Linked DNA regions of Homo sapiens: region 1 is linked to region 2. A link means that fine-mapping ties the variant in region 2 to the expression of a gene that starts in the linked region. Tissue or cell type: whole blood. Region 2 holds a variant in brackets; the other region holds the start of a gene. All regions are shown on one strand. Distances are from middle to middle. Region 1 holds the start of LAPTM5 (lysosomal protein transmembrane 5). Region 2 overlaps LAPTM5 (lysosomal protein transmembrane 5).

The links.
Region 1: LAPTM5 starts here. The variant in region 2 is fine-mapped to the expression of LAPTM5 in whole blood (TOPMed, PIP above 0.99).

The regions. Positions count from the first base shown.
Region 1 is chr1:30,754,505-30,762,831 of GRCh38, reverse strand. LAPTM5 (lysosomal protein transmembrane 5) reads left to right here and starts at 5,058. Exons shown (of 8, transcript NM_006762.3): 1 at 5,058-5,173. The coding sequence starts at 5,087. RefSeq lists enhancers at 3,909-3,978, 5,047-5,326, 5,455-6,251, 6,917-6,966, 7,438-7,787.
Region 2 is chr1:30,729,518-30,737,844 of GRCh38, reverse strand. LAPTM5 (lysosomal protein transmembrane 5) reads left to right here. Exons shown (of 8, transcript NM_006762.3): 6 at 146-241; 7 at 2,580-2,672; 8 at 3,928-5,376. The coding sequence ends at 4,017. Among named protein-coding and RNA genes, the nearest start is that of MIR4420, 5.6 kb to the left of the region's middle. RefSeq lists enhancers at 4,020-4,521, 4,562-5,067, 5,068-5,573, 7,243-7,352, 7,503-7,632. The variant G/A (reference allele first, on the strand shown) is at 4,055.

The DNA of each region.
Region 1 (8,327 bases), 25 kb before region 2:
GGGAATGACCTAATGAGGTAACTCCTACTGTGGTGTTGATGGCAGTTGTGCTATTTTGCCACCAACTTCTTAAGGTGCCTGGATCTCTGAGGTTTTTCCTGAGGATGAGGTCAGCAGCAGGGAGGAGGGGGCTCTGGCAGAGGCTGGTGCTTAGGAGGGAATTACCTAGTCCTTGCAGCAGCACACTGGATGCGCTATGACAATCCCCACTCTACAGCTCAGAGTGAGGCAGAGGCTGGTTGGAGACCAGGGCCAGGAGGGAGCCGGGTTTTCCAGCTCCCCATGGATAGTACGGCTGCACCCATGATCTAAAATGCTCCGTCCTGGGGTGTGCCCAGAGCTGTTATTCAGCAGGAGGCTGCTGGCTCGGCTATGCAGACTTTGCAGCCAGTGCTCCTTCTGCCTGCTGGTCCCATCTCCCTGGAGCCTTCAGCCTGCAGTGCCTGTGGCAGCAGCAGACTAGGATATGGTGTCATTGTGCCCCTGGGTGCAGCCAGGGACCCCTGGACTGCCTGGCTGAGGGGAGGCCTCCTTGGAGTGTCTGGCAGACCGTTGGGGTCCCCTGCCTGCCCACTGGACTCAGCAGCTGGTCATTGGAAGGTCTGGTTGTCCCCAGGCCACAGGCCTGTGGGCTGTCCTTGCCAGGCTGACCCTCCAGGCTGACTTCAAGGCCTGGGCCCCTTCCACAGGCAGGGGAGTAGGGGAGGGACCCTGTGGGTTGCACGTGTAGGCCCTGACCCCTGGTGACCGTGCTGGGTTCGGGGCAGGAGACAGGAGAGAATGCTCTGCCGTTTCTCACATTTTTCAGGCCTTTGGCTTTGGCCCTACACATTCCAGCCCCAAACCTCAAAGGCAGAAGTGAGGTGGGGCTTGCAGCCAGAAGGGAATCACAGGCCAGTGGTCTGGCAGGAAGCTGACCTTCAGCCTGGGTGAGCTGCAGGGGGCACCCAGGAGCCCCTCGGGAGAAGACAGCCCTGGAGCTACCTTGGCTGCCACCACTCACATGCCGCCCACGAAGCTGTCCCCAAGGAGGACCTGTGTCCTGGCTCTGCTCCTGACCAGCTGTGTGTCTTGCAGCAGATCACTGGCCCCTTGGGTCTACGGGAGCTGATCAGTGCCTCTCTGCTGCCTTCCTCTGCTGGCTAGGGCTGGGGGAGGCTCAGCTGAGAAAGGGTTTAAAGGACAGGAAGAATCATAGTGACAATCGTGATCAAAATGCTTCCCACTGTGCAGTCCTTACCGTGACCCAGCCCCTTCTAAGTGCTTCATCTAGGTTAATGGAAAGGACACAAGACTCCCAAACTCTTTGTTTAAATACAAAAGCTGGCAGAGTCGTGGGTTTTATTTTTACCTCCAGGCCTATGGGTGAAGAGGGAAGTTCCAGTGATGTTCTTCTGACTTAACAAAGAAAGCTTACAACTAATTCTGCCTTTGAGGAAACAGAGCTGTCTGTTTAAATATTCATATACCATGGCAGCAAATTATTAAGCCAGATAACCAGCCAGAATTACAGACCTTTTCAGGATTAAAGATGACTCTCTAGGATCTGGGAACCATGTCTGAAGTCAGGGGGTCTTAGAAGATTCCTTTGTCAGAAATAACATTGACAAGGGCAGTTTGACAAGCAGATTTGTATCTGCTCTGCCGTGGCTGCGGTGGCATGGAACATTTCCTTGTCCTTATCTTGATGAATTCAGAGGGTCTGAAGTTTTCAAGGGTTCTACCACTCCACAAAGAAGGTATGAAAAGCAACTTGAAGAAGCTCAAAACTTATCATTCGTAACGGAAAACAGCAGAATATAAATAGTGAGCTTATGTGGTGTTGCCACCTGCATGTACAGACAACGAGATGGGCATTATCATTATCCCCGCTTGGCGCAGGAGGAAGCGGAGGCTCAGGGAAGTTCACGACTTGGCTGGGGTCACACAGCAAGGAAGTAAGGGCTGCACTTGTGCAGATGGGGACTGTGGTCTCGGTGGAGTGTGTTGGGCTCCAGCGACGGGGCCCCAGGCTCAGCTGTTGCTTCCACTGAGCAGCTGTATTTGTTCCCTGCGGCCGCTATAATAAAAGACCAGAAACACAGTGACTACAACAGACATTTATTGTCTTACAGTTCTGGAGGCCAGAAGTCAGGAATGCGCCTCGCTGAGCTAAAATGAAAGTGATTCCCTTTCGAGCCTCTAGAGGAGAAGCCATTTCCTTGCCTTTTCCAGTTTCTGGATGCCGCCTGCACTCCTTGGCTCATGGTTCTTCCTCCAACTGCAGAGCCAGGAGTGTGGCATCTTCCACTCCCTCTCTGACTCTGATCTTCCTTCACTTATGGGGACCCATTTGATGACCTCAGGGCCATCCAGATAATGCAGGATAATCTCCCCACCCACCTCAAGATCCTGAATTTCATGGCGCCTGTGAAGTTTCTTTGCCATGTAAGGCCATGTACGCACAGGTTCCAGAGATTAGGGTGGATTTTTTTTGGGGGGTGAGAGGCACTATTCTGCCTATCACAGTGGCTTTGGCCAAAGGGTCTGACCTTTGGGATAATAGCCGTCCTCTCCACAGGGGGTTTGTTGGGAATGACAATAAAGTGATTCAGGCTTGTACTCCACAGGGAGTGACTGAGGTGCCTGCCAAGGGGCCAGTGTGTGCTGGAGCCTGGTGACCCGGTGAGAGACAAATGACTGCATCAGAACTCCTGCTTCTGCGAGGGAGGTAGTGCCCGAGGGGACTCAGAATCAGACAGATCAGGGGTTCAATCCCAGCTCTGCCTCCTCCTAGCAGCCTGAGTACGGGTGAGATCGGGGAGCAGGGACGGGCTGGAAGGGAGAAAACAAACAGATGCATTCACGTGACCTCATTTCACCTTCACCGCAGCCCTGCCAGGCAAATTTCTGTTCCCCCCAACCGCCCCGCCGTTTTGCAGAGGTGAAAACAACAGCTCAGAGAGATCAAGTGCCTTGTCTGACACCACACAGCTACTAAGTGGGGAGCTGGGATTCCCCATGCCCCAGGATTCCCAAACGGATGCCACCTACTCCACCTCCAGGGCTGTCTGCCACATCTGCGTCCTCCTAGGCTGTGGCTTCCTTAATATGTTCTTTAAATTGACTTACTGCCTTTTTTATTTAAATGCATTTCTTTTAAAATGAGACTTTATATTACTCCTATAAATGGAAAATCACAGGATTCATGGACTAGTTATGTATATTTTTATAATGCACATTAAAATGAATTTATCACCATAAAAAATGAGAAATGTTTACCCATAGACCATGTACAATTATTCCACATGCTGTCAGTGTGTTTCATCCCTCTCTTTGGGAGTTGGCTTTGCACCTGTCCTGGTTTCACCAAATCACAATGTTATGAATGGCTATCATTTATTATGGTAGGAAATCGTCAAATGGCTTCTGTGCACAATCAAATGCAGACTCCCCAGCATGGCCTCAGGGCCCTCCTGGCCCCTGGTTTCCTGATCTCCAGTTCCTCTGGTCTTGCTACTCTTAGACAAAGGAGGACTTCTCTTGGTTTTCTGCCTACCCAGCCAGAAGATCCCAGGCCATGGGCCTGTGGAGCCAAAGTTCTTAACCACTGCACTGTGTCACCTTTCTATGATGTCAGGCCTCAGCAAGGCTTATGAAGGAACAGGAACAGCCTTGAAAATGAAGTTGGGAAGGGATAGGCCAGGCCTCCCAGGAGCCCAAAGCTTGCAGAGTCCCCTTGGTCTCATTGGCACATGGAGAATGGATTGATCAAGTCCACCAATCAAGTTTTGTGGGTCTAACAGAGCAACTCCTGCCAAGTGGGAGGAGCTTAGGGACTTTCTATAACCTCTCCTGGGGCAGAAATGATGGGCTGCAGCAGTGTCCAATCCTAACTCCATGATCTCCTGGGAGGGCAGGGCTTCATGGCAGTTCCTGTCTGCTCTGCACTAGAAGCTTGGCATTGCAAAGGGGCTCAGCTGTGGAATGAAGCAGGGCTTCTTCCAGAAATGTTGCATGTACTTCCTATTCCCTTTCTTTATTGCAATATGGATAATTTATCATCTGAGGAGGGAGTAGAGATTCCAGGGTAGCTTGCCTAAGAGTTGTGGCTTATTAATTCCAACTTTTTGCAAGATCAAGGGGGAAAAGCAATCCCTGATTTTGTGTGAGTATGGGGATTGGGTCTTGAGGCCCTGAAAGTGAGGTTCGGGTCTCACAGATTGCTGTGAAGAGTTATTGACCCACCTAGAAGAGAAGCCTAGCCCAGGGCCTGGCGCACAGTTGATGGGTTTGCTTCCTGGTTATTCTTCCGTCCTTGTCTGGAGCCCTGCACGCCTCTTCGTAGCTTAGGAAGAACAAGCTTCTCCCTGCGGCTCAGGGTGAGGAAGTGGGAGAGAACACCAGCTCCAGGGAGGCTTCTAGCACCAGTCAGCCTCAGTTAAAATCCTTGCACCTTCATTGACTAGCTGTGTGACCTTGCACGAATCATTCCCCCTCTCTGTGCCTCAGTTTCTTCATCTGTAAAATGGGGATCATAATAGTACCTCTCTCAAAGGATTGAGGTGAGGATGAAAGGAGTGAATCCAGGAGCATGCCTGGAAGAGGCAGGAAATGCCTCCTAGACAATAGCTATTTTTGCAGCCAGACAGATCTGGGTTTGAATTCTGCCACCAGTGCTAACTACTGTGTGATTTGGGGCAAGTGCCTTGACCTCTCTGGACAGCTGTTTCCTCATCTGGAAATGGGCTTGGTAACAGTCCTGGCTTCCAAAGTTGGTAGTGTTCTTCTAGTAAGCAAGCTGTGTGAAACGGTGGAACCCTGGCCCTGGTGCAGAGAAGGGCATGATGACCGTGTTAGGGTCTGTCCTCTCTGGAACCCCCTCCTGGGAATGGCAGAGGGCAGTGGGGTGCTCTGAGGCAGGCTGCTGCCCTGTCCCCACTCCCCCTCCCCAGCTGCCCCGCCCCAGCTGTGACGACCTTGTCCCTGCCTGTCTAAGGGGCAGGAAGGAAGTGAGGAGGGCAGCCAGCAGCTTCCCCTTCTCTGCCCTGCTCCAGGCACCAGGCTCTTTCCCCTTCAGTGTCTCAGAGGAGGGGACGGCAGCACCATGGACCCCCGCTTGTCCACTGTCCGCCAGACCTGCTGCTGCTTCAATGTCCGCATCGCAACCACCGCCCTGGCCATCTACCATGTGGTGAGTGTGCGGGCCCCGGGTGTGTGTGCGTGCGTGCTTGTGTGAGTGTGAATGTCTGCGGTGACCCGTCATCTACGGAGCCCCACAAATGAAAGAACTCCTGCTCTCCACCTCTCTGGGGGACCCTGGGCAAATCCCTGTCCTGCTCTGGGCCTCAGTTTCCTTCTCTGTCAAATGGCTGGGGGTACCCTGGGGAGATGCCGCAAGAGTGAGGAGTAAGGGAGCTGGAATCCACTTTCCAGGCAAATGTAACTGACGTTCACTCCGAGGCTGGCTCCGTTTCTGCCTCTGTGAGATGGGGCACAGCAGCAGCCGGAAGGTTATTTGTGTGCAAAGCCAACAGCAGATGTGAAAGTGCTTTGGAAGGCAGGGATCTTGGGAGGAACGTGGGCTGGGATTGTTTGACCGGGATGTGAGGTCGGCCGCAGACACAGCCCCGATTCTTCCCCTGGGGCCTGGAGGGAGCCTGGGCCACTCGAGGGGATGAGAAGTGGGGATCTCCCCTTTGTGCCTCCAGTGGGGAGGCAGGGGCCGTGTCCTCTCAGCTTCCAGCTCAGTCAAACCACGGCCTTCTGCCCACCAAAGAGAACTTGAGACCTGTGCTAATCATTAGGGTAACTTGTCCGGCCCAAGCTCTTGTTGGGCAACTTGTGAAGTCACGGCTGTCACTGGTTCCTCCTTTCCTGGTGACTCACAGTGTGGTCTTGGGCAAGTCACAGTGCCCGGGGGCCAAGGCTGCCCCTCTGCCTGGGGTGGCTGAGGGTCAGTGTCCTTGTACTGTCCTGCCTAGACCCACCCTACTCCCAAACTCCTGGCCACACTCATCTCCCCTAGACCCAAGCGACTTCCTCCTGGGGTGACTCAGGGCCTGTGGTTAACAGTTTTCTCATGAGTCTGGAAGGGCTTCCTCAAAATTAGCCTAGATCCACATGCTGCGGTGGGTTGCTGCAAACTCAGACCTGCCTGCGTCTGCTTCCTGTCACAGGCAGGGCAGGCAGAGCTGTGGCAAGAGCCCAGCCTTCAGGGGGGCGATGCTGTTCAGTGGTTAGCCCACGGCCTCTGGATGCAGACTCCTGCATGCAAATCCTGGCTTCCCTGCTTCCCAGCTCTGCAGCCTTGGGCAATTTACTTAACCTCTCTGAGCCTCAGTTTTCTCATTTAAAAAAATGGGGATGTGAATTATCATACCCATCTGATAGGGTTTGTTGTGAGGCTCAGGGAGTTGATACATACAAAGCATGCAGAACCACGCCTGACGCACAGGTGAGTGCTTTATTATTCGTTGTGCATCAGACATGGCACCTGCTGTCAGCATCCTTGGAGTCAAGTTGTCAGATTCAAGGACTCTAGTTTTGGGAGGAGGAACTCAGAGGTTGTCCTTCCGAGCTCCTGCCAATGCAAGAGCTGAGAGAAGCAAATCACTCTTTGAGTGTCCCTGTACCCTGTATTTTAGGCCTTCAAGCTCTGAGACTATGCACATTCTTAGAAGGACAGTGTGGCATGCAGGGGCGCCTCACAGGTAGCAAGTCCCTGGGTCCTCACCCCAGCCCTGCCACTAACTGGCTGTATGGGCTCAGACAAGCCTCTCTCTGGGCCTCAGTTTCCCTTTTATAAAGTCAGGGGTAAGGTGATGTTGACTGGCTCAGAGGTCTCCAACTCTGATGCCTCTAGGGTCTGGGCAGGCCATGTGAGTGACAGCAGGGGGCAGATGGGGCCTGCGGTGACCCCGGGAGCCCTTGCTTGGCCCACCCTGCAGCTGTTCTCTGTTTTTGCTTGTTGTTGCCACGAAGGATTGTGGGCCCTGGTGGCCGCTCTTCTGATGTTTAGAGAATAGGGAGCAGGCTTTTGTGTCACATCTTCTGATGTTTCAATGCTAGTGATTGATGCATGGTAGAAAAAAATCTCAGTGCAGGCCAAGTCAAATCCATTTGCAGGTTGTGTGGGCCCAGAGGCTGCCCTGCAAACCCGGGACTGTGGGGCTGTTAAGGTTTCTTGTTGATCGTGCCATCCGATGTCCTCACCTGTAAATGGTGGTGTGATATACGGTCCCTGCTCACAGAGCTGAAGAATGTGTGGGCCCTAGCAATCATGGAAGACTTCTTGGAGGTGGTGCCATTGGCAGGAGGGAGAGTTTGGTTGTGGGCAGTATGGAAGGTGAGGAGAAACAGGTGAGCAATGGCGTATGTGTTCGGCTTCTACAGGGACACAATAGAGACAAACCTGGAGTTTGGGGAGGAGGTGATAAAGGTTTTGAGTGACAAGCTAAGAAGTTGGATCTTCTCTGCAGTGCACCATTGATATTTTGGGCTGGATAATTCTTCATCTTGGGGGAGTGAATTGTGCGTTAGAGGAAGTTCAGCAGCATCCATGGTCTCTACCTACTAGATACTAGCAGCACTGCCCATCTCCCTACCCTGCCACTTGTGATAACCAAAAATGTCTCTAGTTATGGGGCCCAATCTCTCCCAGTTGAGAACCAATGCCTATGAGTGATGAGACGTTCTAGAGCAGGAGCAAGCAAAAGAGCAGAGGGGTGTCCTGGAAGCTGTGCGCTCGGCCCAGGTTGTCTCCAGGCTGTGGTCCTCAGTTGACTCCAGTGGGGGGTTATCTTCCTGCACCCCGAAAGAGTCCTCTCTCCTTCCCAGAAAGGGCAGGGCCTGGGGGCTTTCCCATAGGCTAGCTGGCAACAGGTGTGCTGATAGGACCTTGAGCATCTGGATGGAAAAAGAGAAGCTGTGGTCCAGATGTGTCAATAGCCCATGCTGGCTGTCATCTGGACCCAGCCATGGGTGACGACTCTGCACATCATGAGCTATTTGTGGACTTGGCCCCTCTAGGGAGGGTTAAATTGAGACCTTGCCATCCTGAGACAGTGCCACGCTCTATTGAGTCATGAGGGCGTTATTACATGAGGGAAGCCTGGTCCGTAGCTTTGGGCTCGGGCATCTTCCTCAGGATGTCAGTGGGTTTGTGTAGAGGATTCTCTGGGTCACCCAAACTTGCACACTTTGGGAACCCAGCAAACTTTCTTTCTTTTTTTAAAAAATCTATTCTTTTTTTCAAAGTTCAGTAACTTGCCCATCTTTTGTGGTTTGATTTGTTTTGTTTTGTTTTTGTTTTTAAGAGATGGGGTCTTGCTCTGTCACCCAGGCTG
Region 2 (8,327 bases):
TGCTGTGGCGGTCGACCAAGGTGACGGCTGTGCCACGCTGTGCTCGTGTGTGTGTGGAGGGTGGGATCATTATTCCCGGATGTGTGGGTGCTGTTGGAATTCCTTATGTCCAGAGACATTGATGTGGCCCCCAAATCTGTTGCAGAATTACCTCCCCAGCCAGGAGGATATGCCTCATAACCAGTTCATCAAGATGATGATCATCTTTTCCATCGCCTTCATCACTGTCCTTATCTTCAAGGTGAGTGGATCCCTGCCCTGCGGCTCTGGGAGGGGTGGTGAGGCTGTGCTGGGCCCAGGCCTGCCCATGCCAAGCTGTTAGAAGGCAGGGACATGTGTCCTCCATGCCTCCTCTCCTGCTTTTAGCTCCTTTCTCTTGCTTTCCCATGCCAGCTCCTCTGACTTTACTTGGGATCCTCCGAGACAGCCCATTTAGGGCATGTGAATCCGTAAAGGCCACCTGCGTTCAGATGTCTAATTCCAGCTGTCTGGAATTAGATTTGGACTGGCCTGCGTTTGAATCCAAGCCCCACTGTCACTAGCTGCGTGGTTGGTCTTCAGCAAGTCACTTCTCTCTGGGCCTCAGGGGCAGGAGTCTTGTTTTGCCTGTGTTACAGTTTTATGTAATTCAGGCATCAAAATGTACCTGAGATTATGTTAATAGAGGTTTGGTGATGAGAAGGCAGGAGGGGAATGGTCTCATTCTTCTCTGGGGTGGTCAGGCCCAGAGGATAGGGTCCAGCTTCAGGTCCCAGGTCTGAGTGATGGTGAAGCACTGGAGTGTGTTCACAGCAGTACAACCAGCAACGTGAAGAGACAAGAAAACGCTGCCATCTTAGGAAGTCAAAAAACCCCCACAAAACCCAACAAAGACCTGAGCGTTTATTCAGCATGGAAAATAGAGGACTCAAGGGGGACCTGACTGCTGTTTCTTAATACCTGAAGAACTCTTGTGGGGAATTTTGTGGGATCCTAGAGGCCACAATGGGGGCCTGTGGCCTGAAGCCACAGGGATGCTGATGACCACAGAAGGAAGGGCTTTTAAAAAGTGTTCTTTTCTGATTATAAAAGTAACATAGGTCATAGTAGAAATTTAAAAACTACAGATGAGCTGGATGTGGTGGCTCACATCTGTAATCCCAGTGCTTTGGGAGGCTGAATTGGGAGGATTGCTTGAGGCCAGGAGTTCAAAACCAACCTGGGCAACATAGCAAGATTCTGTCTCTACAAAACATAAAAAAAAAAAAGTTGGATGTGGTGGCGTGTGCCTGTAGTCCCAGCTACTAGGGAGGCTGAAGCGGGAGGATCGCTTGAGCCTGGGAGGTTGAGGCTGCAGTGGGCCATAATCATGCCACTGCACTCCAGCCTAGGCGACAGAGTGAGAATCTCTCTCTAAAACAAAAAACAAAAACCAAAAAACTACAGATAAGTAGAAAGAAGACAAGCACTCCACCATCCACACCCCACACAGAGAGCATCACTGCTGACAACTGGGTGCATTTCCCCCCAGCCTTTCTGTGGTGGTGGGTGGGCATCTGCAGACCCCAGCTCCTGCTTCCATCTGAGGCCCTGGGCAGTCTCTGCTGTCACCTAATGCCAACCTAGAAACAGAACCTTGCCCCTTTTAGCATCTTCTCCAAGGACTGACCTAGCACAAACGCACTAGTGAGTGTACAGTGAGAACACCCCTGAAGGCCTCATGGGGGAAGCCAGTGTGGGCTTTCCATGGCACTCTCTACTGCAGGACCCCTCCGCAGACCCCAGCACACAGCTCCGTCCCCCAGCTCCCCTTCTGTTTTTTATCCTCCAGAATGAGGGGCTTCCCTCTTTGACCCTCATTCTGCCTCTCTGGCCCCCTCCACCGACTTGATTTTCCCTGGGCCTTCATGCTTCATTCTTTGTCACTCCGTACCTCCATATGTCTCCTTGCCCCACCTATGTGCCCATCAGGGAATCCATCAAACAAGACCTTCCAGTACAGGACCCTCTCCTCTTACTCAGGGGGCATCCTGGGGGTTTTCTGTTGTTTCTTGAGCTTGCCCCTTGGGATTGTATGCCCCACTCTGGAAAGCTTCTGCCCAATTCTTACATTAACTTGCATCAGCTGATGGACATGTACTAACTGTTCCTCCTTTATAAACATGGACCAATACTGCACATGCTGTTTTGTAATCTGCTTCAGAAAACAACATATCGGAAGCAATTTTGAAGAAAACATGTCCCACCATCAGCTCTGTTTCGAGATGGGCAGGGCTGTCTCAGGAGGTAGTGAGCTTCCAGGCAGTGTGGGCAGTCAAGCAGGAGCTGTGGGACTATTGCCAGGGAAATTGGAGGGTGGGCTAGAAGCCCCCCAAATCCCCTTGCTATGTGGTATCTGTGGGGCAATGAAAAGGGCAATACCTGGAATATTCTGGACTGGCTGGTGAGGAACCCCCAACCAGAATGAGAGGTCCGAGCAGGAGCAGCTGGATGCTGGCTTCTGGAGAGAGTGGTGGCTCCTGCCTGGCATATGTCCTAGGCCTGCTGGAGCGTGAGAAGGACGCTCAGCAAAGCACAGCCTGACCTGGGCCTTTTTCCAGGTCTACATGTTCAAGTGCGTGTGGCGGTGCTACAGATTGATCAAGTGCATGAACTCGGTGGAGGAGAAGAGAAACTCCAAGATGCTCCAGAAGGTGAGTGTGGCTGCAGGTGGGTGCCAGCCCTGTCACTAACTCCCTGTGCCATTTGGGTCAAGTTTCCTTCCCTCTCTGGACCTTGGTTTCTCTATTTGTAAGATGAGGGTTGGAACAGAAGAAATGTGTTCTCTTTCAGTTCTGGTAGTCTAAGATTCATTCACTCACTCATTCATTTATTCAGTATTTACTGCCTCTCACTCTTTGCTAGTCTCATATCGATTCCAGGAGGCGCAGAGAAAACTAAGATGCCACCTCTGCCTTAGAGGAGTGTACAGTTCAGACACATAGATACAATTACAACTTGGTGTGAAGCACAGGGACAATAAGCACAGAGGAAGGACCTGGCCTCTTCTCAGGTATCAGGGAAGCCTTCCTGGAGGAGGTGACAGTTAACTGGTCTTGGAGGGTCAATGGATATGAGATAGCTGGGAAAGCAGAAGGAGGCTTTCCGGGAAGAGAGGATGAGGTGTGCTTAGAAGCAGCTTATTGGAAAGTGACGGTTTAAATTCCTGGTAACTTACTTTCCTCACCTGTAAGGTGGAGATTGTATTAGCTAAGACACTTTTGGTTGCAAGTGGCAGAAACCCAACTCAATCTGACTTCAGGAATTTACTAGCTCACAGAACTTAGCAGCCAAATGTAGGTCTGGCTTGGGCCTGGCTGAGTCCTGACATCAGGATATGATCTCGTCCTCTCCAACTCTTGACTCTACTTTCCTTGATGTTGGCTTCATTTTCCGGAAGCCCATCCCTTGTGGTGGCAAAAAGGCTGCCAAAACCCCTAGGCAGATATCCCACCCTCTCAGAAATCCCAACAGAAAAAGAAGGTCCCAGGAGTATGTCTGATTGGACCAACTTGGGCCACGTGCCTATCCCCAAACCAAGGACTATAGCCAGGGGGATGGAATTCTACTTTGAGTGGCCAAGTCCAGCCACCTCGCTGGATCTGAGGGATGGGACCAGTTCTTCTGAAGGTATATGGACTGAGAATGTTTTCCCAAGGAAAATGGTGCACTGTTTTCAAAATAAGGGGGACTTGATGCTGAATAGGCAAAGGCAAATATGTCCACTACAGGGCTGGGAACTGCACCTATCTCATGCAGGCAATGTCTAGCACATAGCAAATATCCAAGACCTGCCAGTCATTATCATCATCATTTTGCCAGAGGTGGGGGTTTGGGTCCCATGACCCCAGGTTGGAATTGCAGGTCATTCTTGACCATACTCAGCCCTCATCTCTCTGTCTCTCCCAGGTGGTCCTGCCGTCCTACGAGGAAGCCCTGTCTTTGCCATCGAAGACCCCAGAGGGGGGCCCAGCACCACCCCCATACTCAGAGGTGTGACCCTCGCCAGGCCCCAGCCCCAGTGCTGGGAGGGGTG[G/A]AGCTGCCTCATAATCTGCTTTTTTGCTTTGGTGGCCCCTGTGGCCTGGGTGGGCCCTCCCGCCCCTCCCTGGCAGGACAATCTGCTTGTGTCTCCCTCGCTGGCCTGCTCCTCCTGCAGGGCCTGTGAGCTGCTCACAACTGGGTCAACGCTTTAGGCTGAGTCACTCCTCGGGTCTCTCCATAATTCAGCCCAACAATGCTTGGTTTATTTCAATCAGCTCTGACACTTGTTTAGACGATTGGCCATTCTAAAGTTGGTGAGTTTGTCAAGCAACTATCGACTTGATCAGTTCAGCCAAGCAACTGACAAATCAAAAACCCACTTGTCAGTTCAGTAAAATAATTTGGTCAAACAACAGTCTATTGCATTGATTTATAAATAGTTGTCAGTTCACATAGCAATTTAATCAAGTAATCATTAATTAGTTACCCCCTATATATAAATATATGTAATCAATTTCTTCAAATAGCTTGCTTACATGATAATCAATTAGCCAACCATGAGTCATTTAGAATAGTGATAAATAGAATACACAGAATAGTGATGAAATTCAATTTAAAAAATCACGTTAGCCTCCAAACCATTTAATTCAAATGAACCCATCAACTGGATGCCAACTCTGGCGAATGTAGGACCTCTGAGTGGCTGTATAATTGTTAATTCAAATGAAATTCATTTAAACAGTTGACAAACTGTCATTCAACAATTAGCTCCAGGAAATAACAGTTATTTCATCATAAAACAGTCCCTTCAAACACACAATTGTTCTGCTGAAGAGTTGTCATCAACAATCCAATGCTCACCTATTCAGTTGCTCTGTGGTCAGTGTGGCTGCATAACAGTGGATTCCATGAAAGGAGTCATTTTAGTGATGAGCTGCCAGTCCATTCCCAGGCCAGGCTGTCGCTGGCCATCCATTCAGTCGATTCAGTCATAGGCGAATCTGTTCTGCCCGAGGCTTGTGGTCAAGCAAAAATTCAGCCCTGAAATCAGGCACATCTGTTCGTTGGACTAAACCCACAGGTTAGTTCAGTCAAAGCAGGCAACCCCCTTGTGGGCACTGACCCTGCCACTGGGGTCATGGCGGTTGTGGCAGCTGGGGAGGTTTGGCCCCAACAGCCCTCCTGTGCCTGCTTCCCTGTGTGTCGGGGTCCTCCAGGGAGCTGACCCAGAGGTGGAGGCCACGGAGGCAGGGTCTCTGGGGACTGTCGGGGGGTACAGAGGGAGAAGGCTCTGCAAGAGCTCCCTGGCAATACCCCCTTGTGTAATTGCTTTGTGTGCGACAGGGAGGAAGTTTCAATAAAGCAGCAACAAGCTTCTGTCTGGCTGATGTGTTTCTGGAAATACAGTGTAGGGAGGGTGGAGACCAGCCTTCTACCTCCATCACCCCAGGACTCACCCACACCCCCTACACCCACACCCCTCCACACACTCACACCCACCCCCACACACCCACAAATACACCCAAACACCCACACTCCCCCCACATACCCACACACTCACACCCTCCCCACACCCCTCCACACACTCACTCCCACCGCCTACACACCCACACACCCCCCATATACCCACACACTCACACCCCCCACACCCCTCCACACACGCCCACCCCCACACACCCATGTAAACACTCACACATACCTAGTTGCTCCATCCAGAAACTCCTCCCATGGGCCATGCTGAGCGAGGGGTGGTCCTGACCCAATGCTGTCTGATCATGAACCACAGCCCAAGATGATGCACCCTGATGTCTCCCTAATCAGGCGTGCACTCCACTCCCCTGGGGCTGGGTCCTGCTCTGGACACTGGGGAAGACCTCAACAGATGAGACTCGCCTCCAGTTCCCCCCAGTCTGCGGTAGGAGGGACAGATCTGCAAAAGGGCTGCCACGATAGGGAAAGCCTAGGGGACCTCAGACGTGGCCTGAGGGCCAGAGAAAGCCTCTTGGAGGCTGTCACCAAGTGGAGTCTGAAGGATGAGAAGGCAGCAGTAAGCAGAATGGGAAGGGTGCTCTAGGTCTAGGTAGCAGGACACGCAAAGACTCTATGGCATTGGGGAGAGGAGCTGGGGCGAGCTGCTCAGCGTGGCTGCAAGTGGGGAGGGGAGGGAGAAGAGGTCGGCCCGCTGTGGGGCTGGGTCAGGAAGAGTGTTTGCACACAGTGGGGCTCTTTAGGTGCAAGCTCACCCTGGCTAAGTTCAGCCAAGAAGGGAATTTACAGGAAGGACATGGTTGCAAGTAACAGAAGCCTTATGAGCCAAGTTTATTATGAGAAACCAGAAGGTGGTTCACGATGTTTCTTGGCTCTCATACAAATAAAAAATCCAGGGATTTTTGGCTTCAGGTATGGCAGGATCCAGGACTACAACTCTTTAATAATGTCTCTCTGTTTCTCCATCTCTTATCTTTTCTCCCCGGTGTGGCTGAGCTGTTGAGGACTTACCTGAAAGTAAAGTTAATAAAGAGACCAGGGCTGTTTGAATTGGGATCTGTCACCAATACCAAAAGAGCCCTCAGAGCCTTGAATGTCACACCGAGGAACATGGACTAATCCTGAGACAGGTGTCTTTGAAGGATTTTGGGCCAAGGAGTTACAAGGTTTGGGTTTTAGGAAGGAAGAGCCCAAATGCAGGGACCCCTACAAAGGCTGGGGAAGTCATCCTATGGGGCGGCAGGGACGGGGATGAGTTTGAGAGGCATTGTCAACCTTCTGGTGGTGTCAGTTTTTTTGTGGAATGGCAGATTTCTTCATGGATGTTATTTGCTCCTTATCAGACCCCCAAGCAGTTGGTGCAGTGTAATTCACAGAAATGGAAAGCGAGCTCCTGTTCACACTTGAGGGCAGAGGCCCAGAGACATCAAGTGACTTTCCTGAGGCCACACAGTGGTCAGAGATGAGACCAAGCACCTTTTTTTTCTACTCCGAGTGGAGGCTTTTAGACGGGCTGGGGCCCAGTCTGTGTCAGTTGTTGCTTCTTGCAAAGACCCATGGGAAGAGGGCCCGCTGAGAAGCCCCGGCAAGTGTGGATTGGGAGCAGAGGTCACGGGAGGAGAGACATTGGCCCAGCCTTGCATCCTATCACAAGGAGATTGAAGGGCCATGGCTGCGTGTGTCACAAGGACCAGGAGGCCCTGAACTTCCCGGCGCGACTCTCCCGTCCTTCCCGCCTTCCCCGACTCCCACCTCTGGCCTGGAGCCGAAGAACAGGCTGAGCTGTGTAGTGGGATTGTGCCCTGTGGCCAGGCAGCTGGGAGGGGGCCACCCGAGGGACAGGAAATAGCTGGGTTTGGGGAAGTCCGCATGGCTAGCCAAGCCAAGCGAGCCCACGATCGCCTGGGCAGCCCTCACTGAGGCCCTATCAATGCCCCGTTTGAGGCTCACACAGGGGTCCTTTGACGGGGCTGCGATGGTTTGGACCCACTGACAGCGCCTGTTTGAGCTTCATGCCTGGAAAGGAGCCGGCCCCAGGACAGAGGGGGCTGCTTCCAGGCCTGGGCAGGTGAGGGCAGCCTGGAGTGGTTGTCTCTTGGAGGGAAAAAAGAGCTGGTAAAATTAAACCTGGGGTGCTAAGCGGGGCAACTTCAGGTTTCTCGGGAGCTGTGATGGTAGCAGGAAGGGTCCCCGTAATTGAGTGGGCCCTTCAGTGTGCTGGCTCCACAAAGCTCCCAGTGGCCTCACGCAGCAGGTGCTGGGTGGTGATCATTCCTGAGGTTCAGGGAGGGGCTGCCTCTGCCCACAGTCACGCATTGGCCAAGGGGCAGACCTGGGCTTGGACTTCAGTCCACCCAAATGGACCTGAGCTTGTCTCTCTAGACCTTTCTGGGTAACCTCGCCCTTCCTCTGGGAATTTCTACCTCACAAGGCCCTCATTTAATTCCTATTCCAGGCTCTGAGCCCTCTTGGGAGGGCCCTGGCAGAAGCAGGAGGCCTCAGAGGCAGCAGGGAGCTTTTGGATGTTGCGGACCCTCGGATGGTGGTGCCCAGCTCTGAGCAGAGGATGCGAAACGGGGGATGGCAAAGGATGCATCGCGTTTTGGTGGGGCTAGATTTGCGCTTCCTTGGGGGACATATAATGGGAGGTGCTCAGGAAGCAGCTGGGTCTCTAGGTCTGGAGTTTAGGAGAGCGAGGAGGGAGGCAGGTTGAGATGTGAGTGCTATCTTTGGACATGTGGGTGGGATATCAGGTTGGGCTGGTATCACCCAGGTGTTAACCCATCAGAAGGATGTGCTGCTGCTCCGTGGCCTCCCCAGACAGGCCGGCAGATGAAAGC